Linked DNA regions of Homo sapiens: region 1 is linked to region 2. The links come from fine-mapping of genetic effects on plasma protein levels. Region 2 holds a variant in brackets. A gene starts in the other region. All regions are shown on their reverse strands. Region 1 holds the start of CRYBB2 (crystallin beta B2). Region 2 has its middle 68 kb from the start of CHMP4B.

What was found. A credible set is the group of variants that fine-mapping cannot tell apart. PIP is the chance, under the fine-mapping model, that this variant and not a neighbour inherited with it causes the effect. Protein levels are from antibody-based Olink assays in UK Biobank. Linkage for the fine-mapping came from a reference panel and not from the study's own genotypes, which makes the PIPs less certain.
Region 1: it holds the start of CRYBB2, and the variant in region 2 is the best candidate, but not a certain one, in a credible set for the plasma level of the CRYBB2 protein (UK Biobank, PIP 0.77).

What each region holds. Positions count from the first base shown.
Region 1 is chr22:25,212,851-25,220,499 of GRCh38, reverse strand. CRYBB2 (crystallin beta B2) reads right to left here and starts at 861. Exons shown (of 6, transcript NM_000496.3): 1 at 834-861.
Region 2 is chr20:33,871,072-33,888,436 of GRCh38, reverse strand. No RefSeq gene overlaps it. Among named protein-coding and RNA genes, the nearest start is that of CHMP4B, 68 kb to the right of the region's middle. RefSeq lists enhancers at 4,675-4,934, 5,115-5,234, 17,175-17,365. The variant C/T (reference allele first, on the strand shown) is at 9,065.

The DNA.
Region 1 (7,649 bases), not on the chromosome of region 2:
CTCTGGGCTTGTCAGAGTGCCTGAGGTCCTGCCATATCACTTCCCAGTCCTGAGTGTTCACAGACTGAAGAAGCTCAGTTGGTCCAGTTCAGGAGCAGTCTCTGCTGCCTGCCAGAATTGAGACTCTGGGCAGGTCTCATCCTCTCCCTATGCCTCAACTTCCTGTTCTATAAAATGGGGACAGTAATGATGTCTAATAATACCTGTGAACAGGTTGTGAGGATTCAATTATGTAATGTATAAAACCGGAAGCACTTGGCCGTGGTCCCAGAACACACTCAGCATGCAGCAAATGGCAGCAATTGTGGCATTATTAGAGTCATTTCTACCATGCTTTAGTGGCATTGAAATCACCTGTTGCTGGGACCTGTCACATACCTGTGGCTGCATCCTATCCCCTAGCACTCCCAGAGGCTAGGCACAGAGTGGGTGCCCCCTAATTGCAGATGTGGAGGAAAACTGACTCACCCACCTAGAAACAATGCTGAACTGTCACTGGTTTGATTCTTGCAAAACCCTCAGTTACATTCTCCTCCTCAGCGACTGGCGAAACAAGGATGCTGATAGTCTGTTTAATATTAATAATAAAGAACATTGCCCCAATGCCCACTGTGTGCCAGGCACTGTGCTGGATGATCCCCTAACTTCTCTTGAATCCTTACAATAAAGAAGGCTTTTTAACCCCCTTCCCAGTTACCAGAAAAGAAAACTGAGGCTAACAGCATTGAAGTCTCTGCCCAAAGTCACTTGTCAGAATCTGGGTGCTCCCATGCTTGCGGACAGGGGTGAGGATGAGAGAAAGAAGGGAAGACAAGCAAGAGAGGCAATCTTACCAGTGACACCAGCCCCTGCGAGTGCCGTGAAGCTCGGCCAGCGGGAGGTGGCATTTATACCTTCCCCAGAAGTGCCGGTGCCAAGATGAGTGACCGCTGTGCTCCTGCGAAAAGCAGGGTGAGAATGCTGGATTAAGCTCTCACCAAAGCTCGGGTCAGCAAATGCCCACAGACATTGTGTCTCTGCACAATAATGTCATTAGCTTTCAGATTCGGCCGCGCCAGGGCGGTCAGGCGGCTGGGCAAGGAGATGCCCGCTTTGCATGCATCAGCCGTCCGGCTGCCAGGGCCAGGGGTACGCTGGGTTCACTGGTACGGTCAGTCAGGCCGTGAGGCATGGCAGACAGAGGAACATCTCAGTGGGCCTGGGGAAGAACAAGTAAAGAAGGGTGGTTTGGCAGAGTCTGGGCTTCATTCATCTACCCATTTATTCATTCAACAAATATTTGTTGGGCATCCACTTGGTGACAATCTCTGTTCCAGGGGAGTGTCAGGAAGAGGACCTACGCCAGCCCAGGCCATTCAGAAAAGCTCCTGGGAGGTAGCGCATCCCTCAGGGATGGAGAAGAGGAAGCCTGGGAACAGGGTGGGGGGACAGTTCCAAGCAGAAAGGGTCCATATACAAGGAACCAGCATGGTGTATTTCAAGAAGACCTGAAAACAGGTTAACAAAGCTAAAGCATGACATGTGACAAATAGGGCCTGTGCCAGGTGGCCAAGGTGGGCAGGGCCTGATGTTGCAGGGCCAGGGAGGCCAATTATGGAGAGTGCATTTTATTCTCAAGGCCCCTGGCTGTTTCTCTTTCTTTTCTTTCTTTCTTTCTTTCTCTTTCTTTCTTTCTTTCTTTCTTTCTTTCTTTCTTTCTTTCTTTCTTTCTTTCTTTCTTCTCTCTCTCTCTCTCTCTCTCTCTCTCTCTCTCTCTCTCTCTCCCCTCTCTCTCTCTCTCTCTCTCTCTCTCCCCCTCTCTCTCTCTCTTTCTTTCTTTCTCTTTCTTTCTTTTGAGATGGAATCTCACTCTGTCACCCAGGCTGGAGTGCAGTGGTGTGATCTCGGCTCACTGCAACCTCTGCCTCCCAGGTTCAAGCGATTCTCCTGCCTCAGCCTCACCAGTAGCTGGGACTACAGGTGTGCGCCACCAGGTCCAGCTAAATTCTTTTTTTTGCTGTATCTTGTTAGAGACAGGGTTTTGACATGTTGCCCAGGGTGGTCTCAAACTCCTGAGCTCAGGCAATCCATCCACCTTGGCCTCCTAAAGTGCTGGGATTCCAGGCATGAGCCACTGCACCCGGCCTGTTTCTTAACCACTGTCCTAGAGTGAGTTGCTCTTAGATCCCTACCACTGGCCCCATCGCTGCCACATGGGTGCCCAGCCTTTACTCACATTTCTTTTCTATTTTTTTTTTTTTTGAGATGGAGTCTCGCTCTGTCGCCCAGGCTGGAGTGCAGTGGCACGATCTCAGCTCACTGCAAGCTCTGCCTCCCGTGTTCACACCATTCTCCTCCTTCAGCCTCCCTAGTAGCTGGGACTACAGGCGCCCGCCAACACGCCCGGCTAATTTTTTGTATTTTTAGTAGAGACGGTGTTTCACTGTGTTAGCCAGGATGGTCTCGATCTCCTGACCTCATTATCCGCCCGTCTCGGCCTCCCAAAGTGCTGGGATTACAGGCGTGAGCCACCGCGCCCGGCCTTTACTCATGTTTCTTTAGTGCACACACCTTCCTTGCAGCCCAGGCTGTGTCTTGATCCAATCTGAGGCTTGGAGACTGGGTCAAGTATACCTGCTTTCCCCTGTCTCTCATTTTCTTAATGCACATATGCATGCACACGCATGCACACACACTACACACACATGCCCCAGCCCCCTAGCTGGGCTTTTCCTTTTGCAGCACTCATCACTACCCAACATTCTGTTACTCATTTATTTTCTGTCTTTCCAATGAGAAGATAAGCACCACAAAAGCAAAGAAGTTGTCCCCCTGGTTTACCATGGTATCTCCAGAGCCCAGTGCCTGACGCATAGTAGGTACTTGTTTTAAAATCCCAGGGCTGGCCGGGCACAGCGGCTCACGCCTGTAATCCCAGCACTTTGGGAAGCCAAGCCAGGCGGATCACCTGAGGTTGGGAGCTCGAGACCTGCCTGAGCAACATGGAGAAACCCCGTCTCTACTAAAAATACAAAATTAGCCGGGCATGGTGGCACATGCCTGTAATCCCAGCTACTCGGGAGGCTGAGGCAGGAGAATCACTTGAACCCACGAGGCAGAGGATGCAGTGAGCCAAGATCATGGCATTGCACTCCAACCTAGGCAACAAGAGCAAAACTCTGTCTCAAAGAAAATAAATAAATAAATAACATAAAATAAATCCCAGGGCTGCTGTAATAAAGTGTCACAAACTAAGTGGCTTAAAAACAACAGAAATTGGGAATGTAAAATGGTGTTGCCACTACGGAAAACAGTGTGGCTGTCTCAAAAAAAAAAAAAAAATCCAACATAGAATTACCATATGAGCCAGCCATTCCACTTCTGTGCACGTGCCCCAAAGAATTGAAAGCAGGGAATTGAAGAGATATTTACACACCCATGTTCATAGCAGCATTATTCACAATAGCCGAAAGATGGAAACCACCCAAATGTCCATCAACGGATGAATGGATAAACACTATGTGGTCTATCCATACAATGGAATATTATTCAGCCTTAAAAAGAAAGGAAATTCTGACTCCAACATGATGAGGTTTGAAAATGTTATGCAAAGTGAAATAAACCAGACACAAAAGGACAAATATTGTATGATTCCACTTACATAAGTTACCTAGGGTAGGCAAATTCATGGAGACTGGAAGTAGAATAGAGGTTACTGGGGGCTGGGAGGAGCGGGGAATGGGGAGTTATTGTTTAATGGGTACAGAGTTTCTGTTTGGGATGATGGAAAAGCTGGGGATGGATAGTGGTGATGGTCCCATAACAATGCCACTGAACTGTACTCTTAAAAATGGTTAAAATGGTTAATTTTATGCTATGCAGTATTTTACCACAAAAATGTCCCCCAAAAAACCCCAGAAGTTTATTGTTGTGTAATTCTGGAGGCTGGAAGCCTGACATCAAGCTGTCAGCAGGGCCATGCCTGCTCCAGGGGTTCTAGGTGAGGGTCCTTCCTTGTCTCTCCCAGCCCTTTGTGTTTGCCGGTAATTGTTCATGTTCCTTGGATGGGAGGTGCATCACTTTAATCACGTGACTGTCTTCTCCCTGTATCTTCACATCATCTTCCCTTAGTGCATGGCTGATTCTATGTCTAAATTTCTGTGCCTATAAGGATACCAGTCATGTTGGCTTAGGTGACTTCACTAGGCAACTTCACCCTGATGACTTTGTTTCAAATTGGTTCCTTCTGTAAAGACCCTATTTCCAAATAGAAGGTCACATTCTGAGGTACTGGGGGTTAGGACTTTGGAATATCTTTTATGGACACAGGTCAGCCCATAATAGACCTCAGTTAATATTTGTTGAGTAAATGAATGGATTCAAGACCTGGCTGTGTCCTTATAAATAAGAAAGAATTCCTAACATTTCGATTGTATCAGAGCTTGACATGAGTCAGGCACTGTCCATACTCATCTTTTTTTAATCCTCCCAACAAACTCAAGATGTAAGTATTGTATTTATTGATCATTCCATTTTATAAAAGAGAAAATTGAGGCTCAGAGAGACTAAGCCACTTGCCCAAATTTGCACAGCTAGTGAGTAGTAGGACTAGGCTTTATGGATTAAGCCCTGAAACTGTCTGGTTCCATTAATTCAATCCTCACAACTATCTTTGAAGTAGGTATTATTAATGTCCCCTAATACAGATAAGGAAGCTAAGGCTCATAGAGCTTAAGTAACTTGTTCGAGGTCACACAGCCAGGAAGTGGTAGGACCAGTGCTTGAACTTACATCAGTCTGACTTCAAGATAAACGTTCTTAACTTTTAAACTATAAAGCTTCCTACTGAGCTCTGGGAATTTAGTGAAGTTTTTCTTCTCCAGGCCTCAATTTCCCCATAAGAAATGAGGTCCTTGGTGCCAAGACCAGCTCGGTCAGGGAGACCCTAACCAGTGGCGCTAGAGGAATTAAAGACACACACACAGAAATATGGAGATGTGGAATGGGAAATCAGGGGTCTCATAGCCTTCAGAGCTGAGAGCCTCGAACAGAGATTTACCCATGTATTTATTAACAGCAAGCCAGTGATAAGCATTGTTTCTATAGATTATAGATTAACTAAAAGTATTCCTTATGGGAAACAAAGGGATGGGCTGAAATAAAGGGATGGGTCTGGCTAGTTATCTGCAGCAGGAGCATATCCTTAAGGCACAGATTGCTCATGTTATTGTTTGTGGTTTAAGAACGCCTTTAAGTGATTTTCCACCATGGGCGGGCCAGGTGTTCCTTGCCCTCATTCTGGTAAACCCACAAACTTCCAGCGTGGGTATCATGGCCATCACAAACATGTCACAGTGCTGCAGAGATTTTGCTTATGGCCAGTTTTGGGGCCAGTTTATGGCCAGATTTTGGGGGCCTGTTCCCAACACTTGGTCCCTGCACCATGTATTAGGTTGGTGCAAAAGTAATCATGGGTTTTGGCGTTACTTTTGATGGGAAAAACCACATTTACTTTTGCACCAACCTATTATTCTCATTGAGGAAGCAGTCAGGGTTTTCACTGGCTGATAGGAGTGGTAAAACATGCTAGGGAGATGTTTATTATTCCTATTTTTACAGATAAGCAAAGTGAGGCTCAGAGAGGAGACTTTCTTGCCCAAAGGCTCACAGCCACGAAGTGGTAGAGCTGGGATTTGAACTCAGAGATCAGGATTTGTAGACTCCAAAACCTTCAGCCTAGCCTACTTCTCTTCTCTTACCTCAGTTTCCCACACTTGCGAAGAATTAAATATTTTGGCCCATGGACATTATAGTATTTGTAATTATACCCTTTGTAAATGAGCCAATCATGTGAAGCCCTCAGTAGCGGCTCTTACAAATATTATAGAAAGCGCTCAGTAACTATAGCTTTTATGCTATTCATTATTATTACATCTGTGTGGATGGCAATGTTTTAAAAGACTTTTTATTTCTTTTCACTCCCACACTCAAAGTAGGTGCCAAGACAGAGACCGTCAGCAACCTGCCTGTTTCTTTCTACTAATTCATTATTCATTTCTACTTCAAGCAAATGTGTCAACTATGAACTCAGTGGGGAGCAATACAGATAGGGTCCCCACCTTGGTGCAACTTACAGCCCATAGGTTCCTATGATCTCAAAATGTTTTGCCTTTTTAAAAATTTGAGATAGGGTCTTGCTCTGCTGCCCAGGCTGGAGCATGGTGGTGCTATCACAGCTCAATGCAGGCTCCAACTGCTGGGCTCAAGTGATCCTCCTGTCTCAGCCTCCTGAGTAGCTCAGACTACAGGTTTTCACATCTGTGCACAGCTAATTAAAAAAATTTTTTAGGGATAGGGTCTTACTGTGTTGTCCAGGTAGGTCGCGAACTCCAAGCCTCAAGCAATTTTTCTGCCTTGGCCTTCCAAAGTACTTGAGTTTCAGTCATGGGCCACTGCACCTGGCCCAAAAGCAAAGGCTTTTGATGTGACCTGGGTAGTTTGCTCATCTAGCCAATGAGCTAGGTCGTGGAGAGCTGAGCCATGGCTCAGTCATCTTCGTGCCCCCAGTGCCTACATAGGATCTAGCACATAGTAGGTGCTCAGAAAATACGTATTGACAGACTGAATTAATTAATGATAAAGAGCAGGGGTGTCTTCATTTGGGCTCTACCAGAAGCAGACGCTAAGACAACAAGTTCAGGTGCATATAATTTATTTGGAAAGTGATCCCAGAGGGCATCAGGAAGTAGGGAGTGGGGAAGCGAGCCAGAGAAAGGAAGGCAGGCAATTCAGGGTATATTAGTGAGCGGGTTATCACTGGGTCTTCTTAAAATTAGGGGGTGTCATGTGACTCATTCTGGTCAGTGGATTCTGAACAAACATGACTGGTGTAATTTCCAGGTGAAATCATCTTATTACAGGAGCCACACTTTCTAGTGCTCTCTTCTCTTCTGCTGTCCTGAGATGGCAACATTGCAAAATGGCAGAGCCCACACCAGCCTGGGTCCCTGAGTGACTCTGTAGAGAAAAGCCCCCCGCTGACCAGCACTAGACATCTTTCATGAGTGAGAAATAAGTTTCGTTGTTTTCAACCACCAAGAATTGGGGGCTGTTTGTTACTGCAGCATAGCCTGACAGATACATAGAGAGAAAGGACTCAAACCTTCCTCTCCACTTCATCTTCTTGCTCCCACGAGGAGAATAGGTCTTGGTGTTCCCCTTGGACAAACAATATTTAACTTTTAGATACAAAAGAGTCAGAGCTGGAAGGAGGCTCTGAGATCATCAAAAGGTGTTCTCATAGCTATCAGAAACAACACTCCCTTCTTACGACAATTTTTTGTAACAGCCCTTTTACTCTCTTGAAATAAAATTGATAATGTAACCCATCTACGTGCATGCTTTCAAAATAAATTAATAATAAAATGTCCTAACTCTAACTGTATTATAAAAGGATAATAAGGATAGAATGTATAAAAATATGTATTTTGGTATGTAAAAGCTTCAAACAGATGATGTAAGAAAGCAGTTAGGCAATTATTCCTATTTACAATGCATACACTTAGACAGGAAGCTAATATTAAACTTAATATGCGTTAGACATTTTCATTCACTCATGTAGCATTGCCATGGGTGACATTAACTTCCAAAATGGTAAAGAATGCTTGGTA
Region 2 (17,365 bases):
AGACAGCTATGTGAAGTCAGGGAGAATGCCCTGTGATGAGGAAGGCAGAGACTGGAGTTACGCACCCGCACACCAAGGAACGCTGAGGATTGCTGGGAAACCACCAGGAGCTAGGCAGAGGCAAGGAAGGATCCCCCTAGGAAGAGGCAAGAAAGATTTCAGAGGGAGCAGGCCCGGCCCTCACCTTGATTTCAGACTTTTGGCCTCCAGCACTAACAGAATACACTCCTGTAGCTGTAAGCCTTCCAGTTTGTGATACCTTCTTACAGCAAAGATTGTTCAAGGTCTGGCCTGAAAGAGAGGCAGCTGGCACAGCCCTGGAGGAGGAGCAGGATTCGGTGGGAACATCCTGATACAATTAGAAATAAGGAATAAGGACTAACATTTATTGCTCAAGAAATGTGCCTACTACATGCCAGGCCCCATTCGAAGCCCTGTACATGTATTAACTCAAGCAAGTAGGTACCATTATAACTCTATTTTACAGATAAAGAAAGGAAGGCATAGACAGGCGATGTGATTTGCCCAAAATCACACAGCTAGTAATTATCAGGGCAAGAATTTGAACCCAGGCTGTCTGGCTCCCAAGCTGAGGCTCTTAATCACCATATCATCTGCTTCAACAAAATAAGTGAGCAATCAGTGTTATACCTAGGGCCTCCATAAAATACTGGGGGACACTTTGGGAGGCTAAGGCAGGCAGATCACTTGAGGTCAGGAGTTTGAGACCAGACTTGCCAACATGGTGAAACTCCGTCTCTAATGAAAATGCAAAAATTAGCCAGGCGTGGTGGCGGGGGACCTGTAATCCCAGCTGCTCAGGAGGCTGAGGCAGGAGAATCACTTGAACCTGGGAGGCAGAGGTTGTAGTGAGCCAAGATCAAGCCACTTCATTCCAGCCTGGGCAACAGAGTGAGACTCCATCTCAAAAAAAAATACTGAGGGAGTATTGAATTGGTCTCTCCAATCCCGTGTGTGTGTACATAAATATATATATATATATATATATATATATATATATATATATATATATATATATAGAGAGAGAGAGAGAGAGAGAGAGAGAGAGAGAGAGAGAGAGACAGGGACTTACTCTGTCACTCAGGCTGGAGTGCTATGGTACAATCACAGATCACTGCAAACCAGACCTCCTGGGCTCAAGAAATCATCCCACCTCGGCCTCCCAAAATGCTGGGATACACCAGCCTGTGTTCTCATCGGTAAAATGGGAGTGAATAACCCACCACTTCACAGGGCATAATGTACTTGTCATGTGGCTGGCACAGAAGGAACTCGCTGATTGTTCTGACCCCCAGTGGGGGGCTGGGAAAACTCATATTCTGCCCACTGCCTTCCCTGTTCTCTGTGCCTGGTAGAGCTTATTCTGATTTCCATTTGCAAACAGATTCTTCTTCCCCATCTTCTGACCCCTCTGGGAGGCCTAGCATCCAAGCACACTCCTGACAGGAGCGCCAGGCGTGGGTTTCTGAGGGCAGCTCAGAGGCACAGCCAGCTTGAAACAGGCACAGTCATGCCATCCGCTGAGCCTGCAGGCTGTGTACATGGCCCTTGCCATGAAGTGGACATGGTCAGAGGCAAAGATGCAGGGCAGGATGCATGTGTGTGAGCGCCCAGCTATCCACGTACATGTCTGAGCACACATGTGGGTGCATTCACACATGTGCTTGTGAGCGTTGGGGGGATCTTCATATGACACTCTCTGCTTCATGGAATTGGCATTTGCTCATTCATCCTGTGAGTATTTATTGAGTGCCTACTATGTACCAGGCTCTGTTGTAGGAGCTGGGGCTACACCATGAGCAAGACAATTAAATGACTTGCCCTTGTACGGGGAGGCAGACAGTAAACAAGTCATGTCAGACAGTGCATTGGAAGAAATGCGCTGGAAGATGTAGAGTCAGCTTAGGCTGCATAACAAAGTACCACAGACTGGGTAGCTTAAATCAGTGGTCCCAACCTTTTTGGCACCAGGGACGGGTTTCGTGGAAGACAGTTTTTCCATGGATAGTGGGGGGGATGGTTTGGGGATGATTCATATTATATTTATTGTACACTTTATTTATATTATTACCACACTGTAATATACAACGAAATAATTATATGACTCACCATAATGTAGAATCAGTGGGAGCCCTGAGCTTGTGTTCCTTTTTTTTTTTTTTTTTTGAGACGAAGTCTCTCTCTGTCGCCCAGGCTGGAGTGCAATGGCGCGATCTTGGCTCACTGCAACCTCCGCCTCCTGGGTTCAAGCAATTCTCCTGCCTCACCCTCCTGAGTAGCTGGAATTACAAGCGCTCACCACCGTGCCCTGCTAATTTTTGTATTTTTAGTAGAGACAGGGTTTCACCATGTTGGTCAGGCTGGCCTCAAACTCCTCACCTCGTGATCCACCTGCCTCGGCCTCCCAAAGTGCTGGGATTACAGGCGTGAGCCACCAGGTCCAGCCTGAGCTTGTTTTCCTGCGACTAGATGGTCCCATCTGAGAGTCACGGGAGACAGTGACAGATCATCAGGCATTAGATTCTCATAAGGAGCATGCAACCTAGATCCCCCGCATGAACAGTTCACAACAGGGTTCACACTCCTGTGAGCATCTAATGCTGCCGCTGATCTGGCAGGAGGCAGAGCTCAGGCAGCCATTCGTGTGATGGGGAGCGGCTGTATATACAGACGAAGCTTCTCTCCCTCACCAGCCACTCACCTCCTGCTGTGTGCCAGGTTCCTAATAGGCCATGGACCAGTACTGGTCCATGGCCAGGGGATTGAGGACCCCTGGCTCAAATAACAGAAATTTATTTTCCCACAGTTCCAGAGGCAGCAAGTCCAAGACCAAGGCACCCGCAGGGTTTCCTTGGAGGCCTCCCTCCTCGGCTTTCCTCCCCATGTCCTCACACGGCCTTCCCTCTGTGCACCCTCATCCCTTGTGTTGCTTCCCCCTTTTAAAAAGGATACCAGGCCGGGCACAGTGGCTCACGCCTGTTATCCCAGCACTTTGGGAGGCCGAGATGGGTGGATCACGAGCTCAGGAGTTCAAGACCAGCCTGGCCAACATGGTGAAACCCTGTCTCTACCAAAAATACAAAAAAAAAATTAGCCGGGAGTGGTGGCACGTGCCTGTTAGTCCCAGCTACTCGGGAGACTGAGGCAGGAAAATTGCTTGAACCCCAGAGGCAGAGGTTGCAGTGAACCAAGATCGCATCACTGCACTCCAGCCTGGGAGACAGAGCAAGACTCTGTCTCAAAAACAAAACAAAACAAAACAAACAAACAAACAAACAAAAAGGACACCACTCAGATTGGATTAAGACCCAGCCCTACTGGCCTCATTTTAACTTATTCACCTCTTTAAAGACCTTATCTCCAAACACAGTGACATTCTGAGGTACTCGGGGTTAGGGCTTCAACCTATAAACTTTGGGAAGGACACAATTCATCCCATAACTGCTAAGAAAGTGGGGGTGTTTTTTTTTTTTTTTCAAAGATGGGATCTCACTATGTTGCCCAGGCTGGTCTTGAACTCCTGGCCTCAACTGATCTTCCTGCCTTGGGTTCCCAAAGTTGGCAGGGGTGAGTAGGATATTTTAGTCAAGGTGGTCAGGGAAGGCCTCTTGGAGGAAGTGTCATTTGAGCTGAGGTCTAATCAGGAGATCTGGGGAAAAGAGAGTCCAAGTAGAGGAAAGTATAAGAACAAAAGCCCTGAGGCAGGATCGAGTTTGAGGTCTCTGAGGAACAAGAAGGCCACACTGGCTGGACCTGAGGTTGGGGGTGATGGCAGGCAGGGACGGGGTCAGCAGGGCTTTGTAGGCCACGGGAAGGAGTTTGGATTTTATACAATCCTTCTCCTGCTTCACTAGAGGCCATGGGATGTGGTAAGAGGTGCTGGGACATAGTGATGAATCTGACTCATCTTCCCCATTGCCCCCCCACAGCTCTGACCCCTGCCCAGGTGCTCCCAGCCAGGCAGGCAGATAAGGAGAGGATTTAATCCACTGTGATCATTCCTGAGGCAGAGGAGGTAAGGGAGACCCTGAGGCCCAAAGTGCTAGCCCTGCCTGAACTAGTTAGGTTAGTGTCTCTGGCGGGGCTGCCAGACTCTTGATTTGAGATGAAGAAGCAGAAGCATATCCCAGGCAGAGAGACCTGTGTGGGCTAAAGCCTGGAGAAATGAAAGGGCTGCTGGTGAGCTCTGGTAGGTGGGAGATATGGGACAGGGCAGCAGCAGCACCTGCCACACAAACATCCACTACCTGGGAGCTGGCTAAGGAAATGATGGTCAAGCTGTACCAGAGAATGAAGCAGCCTTCTCTCTGCAGATACAAAAAGATCTCCAAGATGTATTAAGTGCAAAAATGAAAGTATAGAACCACGTTCCTGATAAGCTACCATTTGTATATAAAGCATGTGTGGGGGTGGTAAATATGACGACATATTTGTCCTATTTACATTTGCATAAAGAAACTGGAAGGATACACAAGGAACTAAGGCATGTGGCAGGTGATGGGGACTAGGCAGGTGAGGACGATGCAGGAGTTAGCCTTGTTTTACTGTGTGCCTTTTGAATTGTTTTTGTTTTTGTTTTTGTTTTGAGATGGAGTCTCACTCTGTCACCCAGGCTGGAGTGCAGTGGCATGTTGTCGGCTCACTTCAACCTCCACCTCCCAGATTCAAGTGATCCTGCTGCCTCAGCCTCCTGAGTAGCTGGAATTACAGGTGTGCACCATCACGCCCTGCTAAGTTTTATTTTTTTTAGTAGAGACAGGGTTTCACCATGTTGACCAGACTGGTCTCCTAACCTCAAGTGATCCACCCACCTTGGCGTCCCAAAGTGCTGGGATTATAGGCATGAGCCACCACACGCAGTCCTGAATGTAATTTTTGAAACCCATAATCATGAAACTCATTCTTAAAAATTGAAGAGCAAGAGTACAGAGGATGCGGCGCGGGAGCTGAGGTCACCAGGGCTGAGGTTGCTGTCATAGTATAAAAAGAGACATACTGCAACTGTGAGATTAACAAGAGCCATAGGACCCACTTAAGCATCTCACAGGCCGGACACCAGGTGTCACTTAGCAGTTGATACAGCCTGGCCCCAGGATTTCCAACCCTGGCCAGGGGATTTCCAGAAAACAAGACCACCTCAGCACAGATGCAACTTTCATAAACCTTGAAACAAAGCTTCCCCTTACAAGAATAGCTTAAACTTCTTTTTTGAAAGAAACACCTGGCGACTAACCTAGACTGAACCCAGGTCTAGGGAAGGGAGAAGGATCCCCCAAACTCTGAGGATGGTCTCTACACAGAGACCCTCCTGGTCAGCTGGTCCTCTGACCTCCTAAGTGTATCTGGCCCGTGTCATTGATGTCTGTCTCGTAACAGCACAGCCAAAATAAATCACTTGAGGCCGGGCACCATGGTTCATGCTTGTAACTCAGAACTTTGGGAGGCCAAGGGAGGAAGATGGGTTAAGGCCAGGAGTTCAAGACCAGCCTGGGCAACACAGCAAGATCCCATCTTTTTTTTTTTTAAGAAAAGGATAAACCGTTTGAGCATCAGGCAGTGTCTAAGACTCATCTTTGACACGAATCAAACCAAAGGAGAGAAATCGCTCGTGGGGAAGCTGGTCACCTAGGACCACCCGAACACAACAGCTGCTTATGATTTGGGCAGTAGGGAGCCATGGAAGGATTTAAAGGTAGGGAGGAGGTGTGTGACGTGATCAGACTTGTGAGCAGCCAGTGCGGAGAGTGGTTCACAGGGGGCAGCATGGAGGAGGCAGGTGTGACCATCCAGCTAGTGCCTGGCCTCTGATCTAGGGCAGAGACAAGGAGGTGGGGTGGGGAGCAGAGCGTTGGAGGGGGAAGGGACAGTAGAAGGCAGAGCTAACGAGGCTCCACTGCCAGGCAGGGATGCTAACCAGCTCCTTCCCCTCGGAAAAGAGGTGGATGTCAAATCTTGAGCCCCGCCCAGCCACACTGGCCCCTGATAAATCCCCTCTGGCCAGTCATTACTCTTCTCACGTGCAGCCCCCTAATTGCCCAGAGATGAAGTGTCTGAGGCTGCCCTCTTGCCATGGCAGACAAATGCCTGTTTGAGCAGAAGCCGGAGGGAACAGGACAGATGGGGTCCTGTTCAGCTTCCCTGCTCCCAGATCCCGGGCCTCGCTGCTCCTGTGGGCTTTGGGAAACCAACAAGGGTTTGTGTTTAATGAGGCTGCCTGCTCATCCATCACGCAAGGCCAGTGCCTTGACGACAGCAACCACCAAAGATGAGGGCCAGGCCAGGGTCCCTGAATCAGAGCAGGGTGAGGGTGGGGCAGGCTCAGTGCAATCGAATCCAGGCTGTGTAAATCACCACACCTCTCCAGGCTGTGATTTCCTCACCAAAATGGGGATCATGTTTTATGTGGCAGACATTGCATGTTAACAACTCTACACCCACTTGCTCTACTTCTTTAGGAGGAGAATCACATTTGTTTTCAGGATGGGGAGGAAAGGTACCACTGAAAAAACTCACTCTTCCCGCTTCCCTTGGAGCAGAGGCCACTATGTGGCAAGAGATAACACATAAGGCCGGGCGCGTTGGCTTGTGGCTGTAGTTTCAACACTTTTGTAGGCAGACGCAGGAGGATCGCTTGAGCTCAGGAGTTTGAGACCAGCCTGGGCAACATAGCGTGACCTGTCTCTACAAAAAAAAAAAAAAAAATTTCCGGGTGCGGTGGCTCATGCCTGTAATCTCAGCACTTTGGGAGGCCGAGGTCAGTAGATCACCTGAGGTCGGGAGTTCAAGACCAGCCTGACCAACATGGTGAAACCCTGTCTTTACTAAAAATACAAAATTAGCCGGGCGTGGTGGCACATACCTGTAATCCCAGCTACTCGGGAGGCTGAGGCAGGAGAATCGCTTGAACCCAAGAGGCAGAGGTTGCAGCAAGCTGAGATTTCACCATTGCACTCCAGCCTGGACAACAAGAGTGAAACTGTCTCAAAAAAAAAAAAAAAATTAAGTTAGCCAGGTGTGGTGGCACACACCTGTAGTCCCAGCTACTCAGGAGGCCGAGGTAGGAGGTTCACTTGAGCCTGGGAGGTTGAGGTTGCAGTGAGCTGTAATCACACCACTGCACTCCAGCCTGGGTGATGGAGTGAGACCCTGTCTCAAAACAAAGAAGCAAACAAAAGACAGAAGACATGGGGCATTTGGAGATGAGATGCCTGGAAGTGCAACAAGAGGGTTAAAGCCGCACCCCAAGGGTGCTAAAATGTGAAGATCAAAGGTGTCCAAGTCCCTGGCAGCTTCATGGAGCCACTAAGTCACCTGGGGCTGCCATATCCAGACTTCTGAATGGCACTGGGGTTTGAATGCCTCTGTGAGGACGAAAGACAAGGCTCCTGGCCCTGTGAGAGCCCTCCAGCTGAAACTAGGCTCCCTACATCAGGAAAAAGCTGGAAGTCAGCTGTTTCTTCTTGGGACTGGAAAAACTGCCCAATAACCTTGGGCTGCAGCCTAGAAGTGGGTGTCTTGCCCTGGGCCATAGAAAAAAAAAAGTCACCCAAGATAAACTGAAAAAACAAACAAAGCAAAAAGAAAGAGAGAAACTCAATAGGTGGGTTTGACAGTAGTCTGTCATATTCATTTACTGGCCCTGTCATAATAAAACAGTAGAGTGGCTTAAGCAACAGCAATCTATTAACTTTCAGTTCTGGAGGCTAGAAGTCCCAGATCAGGGTGCTGGTGTTTGGTTTTATCGGAGGTCTTGCTCTTTGGCTTGCAGACGGCCACCTCCTTGCTGTGTCCTCACATGGTCTCCCTTGCGCATGCTCATCCTTCCTGCCCCTTGGTGCATCCACATTTCCTCTTATAGGGACACCAGTCAGATTGCATTAGGGGCCACCCTGATAGCCTCATTTTAACTTAGTCACCTCTTCAAAGACCCTATCTCCAATATAATCACACTCAGAAGTATTGGGGGCTATAGAACACCTATCAGAGGTGTTCGCCCAGAATACAGCACAGAGAGAGATAAAGAAATGTGAAACATAAAGGGGAAGTTAAGATGGAGGATGAAATGAAATGATCCATTATATATCTAATAGGATGTACAACAGGAATAGGAATTCCAATAAGAGACAGTAAAGAGGATGTGGGAAAAGCAATAAAGGAAACTATAATAGGGGCCAGGCATGGCCCAGAACTTTGGGAGGCTGAGGCAGGCAGATCACTTGAGGTTAGGAGTTCGAGACCAGCCTGGCCAACATGATGAAACCCTGTCTTTACTAAAAAATACAAAAATTAGCCAGGTATGGTGGCGGGCACCTGTAATCCCCGCTACTCAGGAGGCTGAGACAGGAGGCGGAGGTTGCAGAGAGCTGAGATCACACCACTGCATTCCAACCTGGGTGACAGAGTGAGACTCTGTCTCAAAAAAATAAAATAAAATAAAATAAAATATAGTAAAATATAATATATAAGAATTTTTCAAATTGAAGAAAGCACTGTCTTCACAGAGAAAAGCCATAGTTCAGAGTGGGATAAAAATAAATCTAGGCTGAGTGCAGTGGCTCAAACATGTAATCTCAGCACTTTGGGAGGCCAAGGCAAGAGGATCACTTGAGTCCAGGAGTTCAAGACCAGCCTGGACAATATAGGGAGACTCTGTCTCTACAAATAATTTTAAAATTAGCTGGGTGTGGTGGCATGTGCCTGTGGTCCCAGCTACTTGGGAGGCTGAGGCAGGAGGATTACCCGAGTTCAGGAGGTCAAGGCTGCAGTGAACTATGATTATGCCACTGCGATCCAGTCTGGGTGACAGAGCCAGATCTTGTCTCAAAAATAAACAAATAAATAAAATCTACGCTTAGGCATGTCTAATTGCACTTGGACAACTTTAAGGGTAAAGAGAAAACTTTTGAAGCTGCCAGAAGGGTGGGAAAGACAGATTCCTTTCAAAGAAACAATTAGACTAAAAAATAGACTTCTAATTAGCAACAATAGGAGCCAGAAAGGAGTAGACTAATATCTCCAAACACAGTGAAAAAATACTTGTCAG[C/T]CTAGAATTCTATACCTAGCTAAACTGTCACTGAAGAGTGAGATCAAAACATATTTCCAGGTTGGGCGTGGTGGCTCATGCCTGTAATCCCAGCACTTTGGGAGGCTGAGGTGGGTGGATCACTTGAGGCCAGAAGTTCAAGACCAGCCTGGCCAACAAGTCGAGACCCTGTCTCTGCTAAAAATACAAAAATTAGCTGGGTGTGGTGGTGCACACCTATAGTCCCAGCTACTCAGGAGGCTGAGGCATGAAAATAGCTTGAACCCAGTGGGTGGAGGTTGTGCCACTGCCCTCCAGCCTGGACAATAGAGCAAGACTCTGTCTCAAAAAAAAAAAAAAAAATATATATATATATATATATTTCCAGATATACATGATTTAGAGTTTACTACCCACAGGCCCTCACCAAAAGATTAAAGGATGTGCTTCAACAAGAAGGAAAATGATTAAAGAGATAGAGAAGTGAATCCCATCTTGGTCATGTTATTTGAGTCTTTGATCAAGTTCAACCTGAAGATACTCCTGAACTTTTCAGTTTCAGGTGCCCACAAAGTCCCAATTCATTGAGGGACGGGGAATGAGTTATAATGTTCTCTCATTTTCAACCAAAAGAGCCCTGATTGACACCACAGCTTTCCCATAGATGCTAACTAAATCAGTAAGATCGGTTCCCCCAGCTTGTTGTTTGAAAGAGGTAAATAAATATGTGTTAAATAAATGAAACATGGTCCCTGTCTTTGTGAATCATGGAATCTCATAACTATTGATCAGGAGAGTTCTGAAGACATTGAATCTTGGACTCTGTCCCCACCTGTGACATCCTAGTTTATCTGGTCTTTGGACCAAGACCCAGCCCATCTAATGAGATTTCCTTCCTGTTTGTAATCCCCACACCACCACCAGCACCACCACCACCACCATCACACACACACACACACACACACACACACACACACACACACTCCTATTAAGCTCACTGTCCCTCCGGGGCCTGTGCCCACGACACCCTCACAACCCCTTCTCTGTTCCCTAGCGCCACCTTGAACACTTGCCAGGATACGGCTCCCAGCACTGCAGTGTGGTTGGTGAGCAACAGCAGAACACCCACGTGGCTTTTATTCCTCGAGCATCCCACTGACATGTGCCATGTAGTGTCAGATTTGGGGGTGACTTTAGGCAGGTGGAAGCAGACTGGGAAAATGAGGTGGCTGAACTTGATCTCTCCAAGGGTCTTACAGCCACAGTGAAGGGAGCCATCAAAGAGCTGGGTCTCCCAGTTCCCCACCTCAAATAGAGTCGGTCCCTCATGGTTTCTCTTATATATCTGGCTTTGATGTAAGATATTCCTTGGAGAAAGGGCTCTGTAACAAGTTTTGTTTTTGTTTTTGTTTTTTTGAGACACAGTCTCACTCTGTCACCCAGGCTGGAGTGCAGTGGTGCAATCATGGCTCACTGCAGCCTCGACCTCCCAGGCTCAAGTGATCATCAGACCTCAGCCTCCTGAGTAGCTGGGACTACAGGCACGCACCACCATACTAAGCTAATGTTATTTATTTATTTTTTTTTGAAGAGACAGGGTTTCACCATGTTGCCCAGACTGGTCTCAAATTCCTTAGCTCAAACAATCCGCCCACCTTAGCCTCCCAAAACTCTGGGATTACAGGCATAAGTCATGGTGCCTGGCCTATAACAAGTTTTAAAGATAAATTTGGAGCTGGCTATGGTGGCACACAACTGTAGTCCCAGCTACTTGGGAGGCTGAGGCAGGAGGATTATTTGAGAACAGGAGTTCCAGGCTGCAGTGAGCTATGATCAAACCACTGTGCTCCAGCCTGGTCAACAAGCAAGACCCCATCTCTCTTTTTTTTTTTTTTTAGACGGAATTTTGCTCTGTCCCCCAGGCTGGAGTGCAGTGATGCAAACTCGGCTCACTGCAAGCTCCACCTCCCGGGTTCACGCCATTCTCCTGCCTCAGCCTCCCAAGTAGCTGGGACTACAAGGCGCCCGCCACCATGCCCGGCTAATGTTTGTATTTTTAGTAGAGACGGGGTTTCACCGTGTTGGCCAGGATGGTCTCGATCTCCTGACCTTGTGATTCACCCACCTCGGCCTCCCGAAGTGCTGGGATTACAGGCGTGAGCCACCGCGCCAGGCTGCGAGACCCCAACTCTTAAAAAAAAAAAAAAGTTTTGAAAACACCCAGAGTAGATGAAATCTTAAGATCCCATGCAATTCAGTGCTCCACGATCCCTCTGAAAGTGTAGAGACCAGAGAGTGATGGCAGAGACCTTGGGCATCCCAGAGGCCCACCGCTCCCCGTGGAAGACATCTTAGGAAGATGTCTTCTGCCCGCCCTGCTCCAGACAGATTCACCCCGCACCTTTGCAAGGGAAGAAGTCAGTGTAGCGTCCCGCTGCCCTCCTCACTGGGCTCCATGGGAGTATTCGGGCCCAGGCTTGGTGAGATGACCTGGAATAGCTCATCGTGCCTGGGAGCCCCCATTTCCCCTAATGGGCTCATCAGCACAGGCTCCAGCACCATGTATCCTGTTGGCTGAATCAGGCAGTCAGTTTCCAGAGCCCTGAGCTCAGCAGTGGGTGGGGGCTGCGAATTAGGACTCTAACCCAGAGGAGGTTGATGGACTCGTCGCCGTTTGTAAGCCGGAGCACAGGGTGTTTGGTCCGTCCAGCGCCCCCACAACTGCCACTCTTGCGGTCAGACAGACGTCTTCTGGGAGGCAAGTCCAGTTGGCCCCTCGGTGAGAGCGCAGGAGAAGCAGGCAGGCCCGTCCCTGGGAGACCGCCAGAGAAAGCCTGCAGGCATTGAAAGTCCCCAACTCGGCCGGGCGCGGTGGCTCACTGCACCCGCGGTGGTGATCCCAGCACTTTGGGAGGCCGAGGCAGGCGGATCACGAGGTCAGGAGATCAAAACCATCCTGGCCAACACGGTGAAACCCCGTCTCTAATTAAAAAAAGTACAAAAAATTAGCCAGGCGTGGTGGCGGGCGCCTGCAGTCCCAGCTACTAGGGAGGCTGAGGCAGAAGAATGGCCTGAACCCGGGAGGCGGAGCTTGCAGTGAGCCAATATCGCGCCACTGCACTCCAGCTTGGGCAACAGAGTGAGACTCTGTCTCAAAAAAAAGAAAAAAAGAAGTCCCCACCTCAAAGGCATAGCCCAAGGGCAAGTGGGCAGGGCCCTGGCAGTGTCCACCCAGTGGTGCACAAATGAGGTGGTGGCCTCCAGGACAAGAGGAAACAGGGCCTCCCACTGTCAGGATCCCCTCTCCTTCTCTTCCTTCTTTCCTCTGTGTATTAGTGAGGGTTCTCCAGAGAAACAAAATCAATAGAAGACACGGAAAGGAGACAGCTAGATTTCTCTTAAGGAATTGGCTCACACAGTTGTGGGGGTTTGCAAGTCTGAAATTGGAAGGGCAGGCCCCGGGCTGGAAACTCACGCAGGATTTTATTCTGCAATCTTGAGGCAGAATTTCTTCTCTGGGGAAGCTGATTTGCTCTTGAGGCCTTCAACTGATTGGATGAGGCCCACCTACATTACCAGGGATGATCTCCTTTACTTTGAGTCAATTGATTGTAGATGTTAAGCACAGCTACAGAACACCTGCACAGCAACACCGAGATTTGCATTTAATTGAGTTATAGCCTCGCCAGGCTGATGAGATTTGAGCCTCACACTCTGCTTCTCTTCATGTCCCTAGCCCTCCTGTCTTTGCACAGAAAGGCTTCTCCATGGGGTGAGCGTGGGGGGCATGGTGACCAGTAGCTCTGGGCTCCTGTCTTTCTGACTACATGACCAGAGAGGAAGGGATTCCTCTTCCCTGTCTCCAGTTTAAAAATTCCCAGCAAGGATGGACCCAGGAGTCTGGGTATGAAATGAGATGATGGCATCGTCTGGATCCTAAAGCGGGCGAGGGGGTAGTGGGGAGCGGCCAGGGACGATTCCCCCAGAAGAGAGGAGGAACACACACTCTTGAAAGGAGGAAGTGCCAGTGGCGAAGCAGGACCTGCCCCCACAGGTCTCCTCCTGCAGGCAGGTGAGGCTGCGCCCAGCCTTCCCCTAAATCTCTGCCTGCACCTGCCAGCCTAGACCCAGCTCCTCCCGGCCCCACCACAACCCCATCAAGGAACATGAAGAAGCCTGAAGCCTTCTCACTTCCTTTTTTTTTTGTAGACAGGGTCTCACTCTGTCACCCAGGCTGTAGTGCAGTGGCACAATTATAACTCACTGCAGCCTTGACTCCTGGGCTCAAGCAATCCTCCCACCTCAGCCTCCCAAGTTGTTAGGACTACAGGGGTGCACTACCATGCCCAGTTAATTATTTTTTTATTTTGTAGGCCAGGCACAGTGGCTCACACCTGTAATTCCAGCCCTTTGGGAGGGCTAGGTGGGTGGATCAACCTGAGCTCAGGAGTTCAAGATCAGCCTGGGCAACATGGCGAAACCCCATCTCTACAAAAAATAGAAAAAATTAGCCAGATGTGGTGGTGCATACCTGTGGTCCCTGCTACTTGAGAGGCTGAGGTGGGAGGATCACTTGAGCCTGGGAGGTGGAGATTGCAGTGAGCTGAGATCATGTCACTGCACTCCAGCCTGGATGACAGAGTGAGGCCCTGTCTCAAAAAAAAAAAAAAAAAAATTAGAGTAGGATCTCACTATGTTGCCCAGGCTGGTCTATGAACTCCTAGCCTCAAGTGATCCTCCTGTCTCAGCCTCCCAGAGCACTGGAATTATAGGCATAAGTCACCATGCCCGGCATTTTCCCGCCTCTTAAACACATTCCCCCATCATCGTTGTTTCCAGGGTATCTACTATGGCCTAGATGCTTGACACCCATTTCTCCTTTAATCAATGTCTCCTTAGTCAACAACCCTGGGAGCTTTTACAGAGGAGAAACCCAGAGAGGGGAAGGGACTTGCTCAAAGTCCCTCAGCTATTAAGCTGAGGATCCAAGACTTCGACTCAGAGACACAGAGGAGGAATTTCACACGTCTGTATGAAGCCAAAGCCCAGGACAGAAACTTCTCGCAGAAGCATGCTACTTCTCGCAAACAGCCTTTCTGGAAAAGCAATGAAGATTCGGGGTTTTTTATGATTTGGGCCAGACCTTGGCCCCCCTGGTTGGCTCAGAGGCGAGGCCTGGCTGTGGGGAAGGTATTTGAGAGTGAAGGTGTTTGTGTCCTTCCTCTGCCACGTCCTGGGCTTCCAGCTGCCAGCCACAGCTCTGACAGCAGACTTGCCTAAACCCCCTCATCTAATTAAAAAATAAAATCAAAGAAAGAAAACTTTTTATTACACTCTTCTAATGGTAGAAAATAGTTTCAGGCATAAAAAGGCGCTCAGCTGGCTACTTCCCAGGCATCAAAAATTAACAGCCACTACATTTTATTCCGAGGAATTAATGGAAAATTTTACATGGTGGTGTAAAATGCAGGGGACAAGATGAAGGACATGACTCTTCGTTGAACAGCTCAGTCCCTCGCTTGCAGCAAAGACACTGCTTTGGCCGCCTGCTCTGAGCAGGAACCATGGGTTCACAGGGGGCCAAGTGTGTTATGTGGGGGATGGAGGGGAGAGGTGGGGGGAATTGGCTGCAGCCTCTAGGGAAGCTTCTGAACCTCCCATCTGCACACACCTCTGAACCCTGGCCCCGTCAAGTTGTCATCTTTCCTGCAAGATCCCTTCACCCTGAATGATTGCTGATGGTCAAAACTTCAGACTCAGGGGCAGTAGGCCTGGGTTCTAGCCCTGGTTATGCCTCAGTCTCTCCATCTGTCAAATGGTCACTAGAACTCCAGGATCCTGAATCTCTGAATCCTATGTAAAATAAACTTGGTCTGTATCTTCTCCTAAAAATAGGAGCAAGAGCCTGGGCTTTGAAGCTGGGCAGACCTGGGTTTGAATCCAAGCTCGGCCACTCATCAGTTCCATGGCCTTAGGAGAGTCACCTCTCTGATCCTCAGTCGCCAACTCTGTAAAATGAGGACAATAGGACACCCCTCTGAGGAGGGCTGTGTGATGTAGATAACAGTTTGTCCCACCTTCTCTAGCTCCAGGGGCCCTCAAGTGAACTCCCAGCAACACAGGCCCAAGCTCCTTTTCTCCTTTTCTTGTTTCCACAAAAGAGTTTATCCTGAAACATGCCAGTGAGCAGTGAACACTACAGATGCCTACTGGGGCTAGTGGAGGGGAGGGTTTACATCACTCACTTGACAGCAAACCCCTGACAAGCCCTTTGGACCATGCTGGAAAGAGAAATCAGTTACTCCCTGGGGAGTGGGATGGAGTGGGCAGGGAGCAGAGGGAACTTTTCAGAACATAATGTGAGCATATTTGGGAAAGGCAATGTGCAATTCACTGTTATGTCTGTGCTTTTCCTTTTTTTTCTTTTTTTTTTTTTTGAGACGGAGTCTCGCTCTGTCGCCCAGGCTGGAGTGCAGTGGCATGATCTCGGCTCACTGCAAACTCCGCTTCCCAGGTTCACGCCATTCTCCTGCCCAGCCTCCCGATTAGCTGGGACTACAGGCGCCCCCCACCACGCCCGGCTAATTTTTTGTATTTTTAGTAGAGATGCAGTTTCAGCGTGTTAGCCAAGATGGTCTCGATCTCCTCACCTCGTGATCTGCCTGACTCGGCCTCCCAAAGTGCTGGGATTACAGGCGTGAGCCACCCCGCCCGGCCATCTGTGCTTTTTCTTTAAAATGTTCCTGAATCCAAATTTTAAGTTTCTAAATATATTTATTTTTAAATAATTATTTACATGTTTAATCATATTGGCAATTAAGTTATGCAAGGAGCTGTAAGCTCAGGGTGAAGTCCCCCTCCTCCTCGGCTTCTGTCCACTCCACGGCCTCAGGCGCCCCCTTGCCAGCTGTGTCCTTGCTCCTTCTCCAGCCTGGACCTTTCTCCAGACCACAGGGCCTCCTGGGCATCTCCCCCAATGCCCCACGTCCCACTCGGAGGGTCCAACATTGAGCATAGTGCTCCCCACCCCCACCCCCAACTCCTCCTCTGTGTCTCCACCAGCCACCCAGTCGTGAGCCAGGGTACTGGGCGCCATCCCCGCCACCCCCCTACTCCAATAACCACCCCCATGGATTCCACCTCTAGGACCTCAGTTGAGTCTGTCACCTACTCTCCACATCTGTCGCGCCAACCCTAGTTACCATCTCTTGGCTTACCGCCCCATGCCTGGAGCTTGGGCTCAGCCGGCAGCCTCACTGTTTGAGAGCCCCGCACGCCAGGCTATGTCCTGCTGCGGTACCTCTGCTCACACCACGCCCTCTCCCTGGCCTGCCCTTCCCTCTCTTTATTTCTCCACCTCGTGTGCCCTACCTCATCTCAACCTCACACTTAACTCATTTCTAGACACTCTGTACATCACCTTCTAGCCTGGTTCAAGCAATCAACTGCCTTCGAAAACACGTGATGAGCACCTGATGTCTGCTGGGGACACAGCGCTGAGTCCCTGCCCTCAGGGAGTGCCCAGTCTAATGAAAAAGACAGACACAGACAACTAAAATCCTGTTTTGATGATGCCGGGGTGAAGGGTGCTTACAGGACTGGATAGAAGAACCCCCGACACAGCTGGGGGATCAAGAACAGCTTCCTGGGGGAGGTGGGGTTTCGGTCAGGCCTCATAGGCGGAGGACGTATTCAGCCCACACAGTTGGCAGAGGGCACAGCATTGGTAAAGGCCTGGGGTCACCTAAACAGCCTCAAGAAATCTCCTCCCGGAGGCTCCTTTGCCATAAACCTAGGCTGGGAGCATTTCCAATTCCTTGGAGCACTGCCCAGAGGAAAACTCTCTATGAGGATGAAGATTTATTTATTTGGTTGTAAACTGAAAGCCAGACCAACGCAGGGCATAAAGAGGAGGGACGATAAAGAGCTGGCAAAGGATGGCGCCCTGCAGCCCGGGGACCCTGAGCCCGCTCTCCCCTCTGCCGAGGACAGCGCCCTGCAACCTGGGGACCCTGAGCCGGCCCTCCCCTCTGCCGAGGACAGTATCCTGCAGCCGGGGGACCCTGAGCCGACCTTCCCCTCAGCTCAGTGCTCCTCCAACAAAGGTCCCGTCACAAACACGTAGCAAGCGCCTGCTGTTTACCAGCCCTGTGCCAGGCGCCGGGGATATAGCAGCGAACGAGACAAAGCCCCTGCTATCAACCAGAGATGGACGTGGACCTGGCAGTGACAGGCCAGGGCTGTGCTGAGGCAGCAGGAACCCTGGGGCCTCGAGAACCCAGAGGCAGCCCCTGGCCTGGCCTGGCAGGTGTAGAGGAGCAA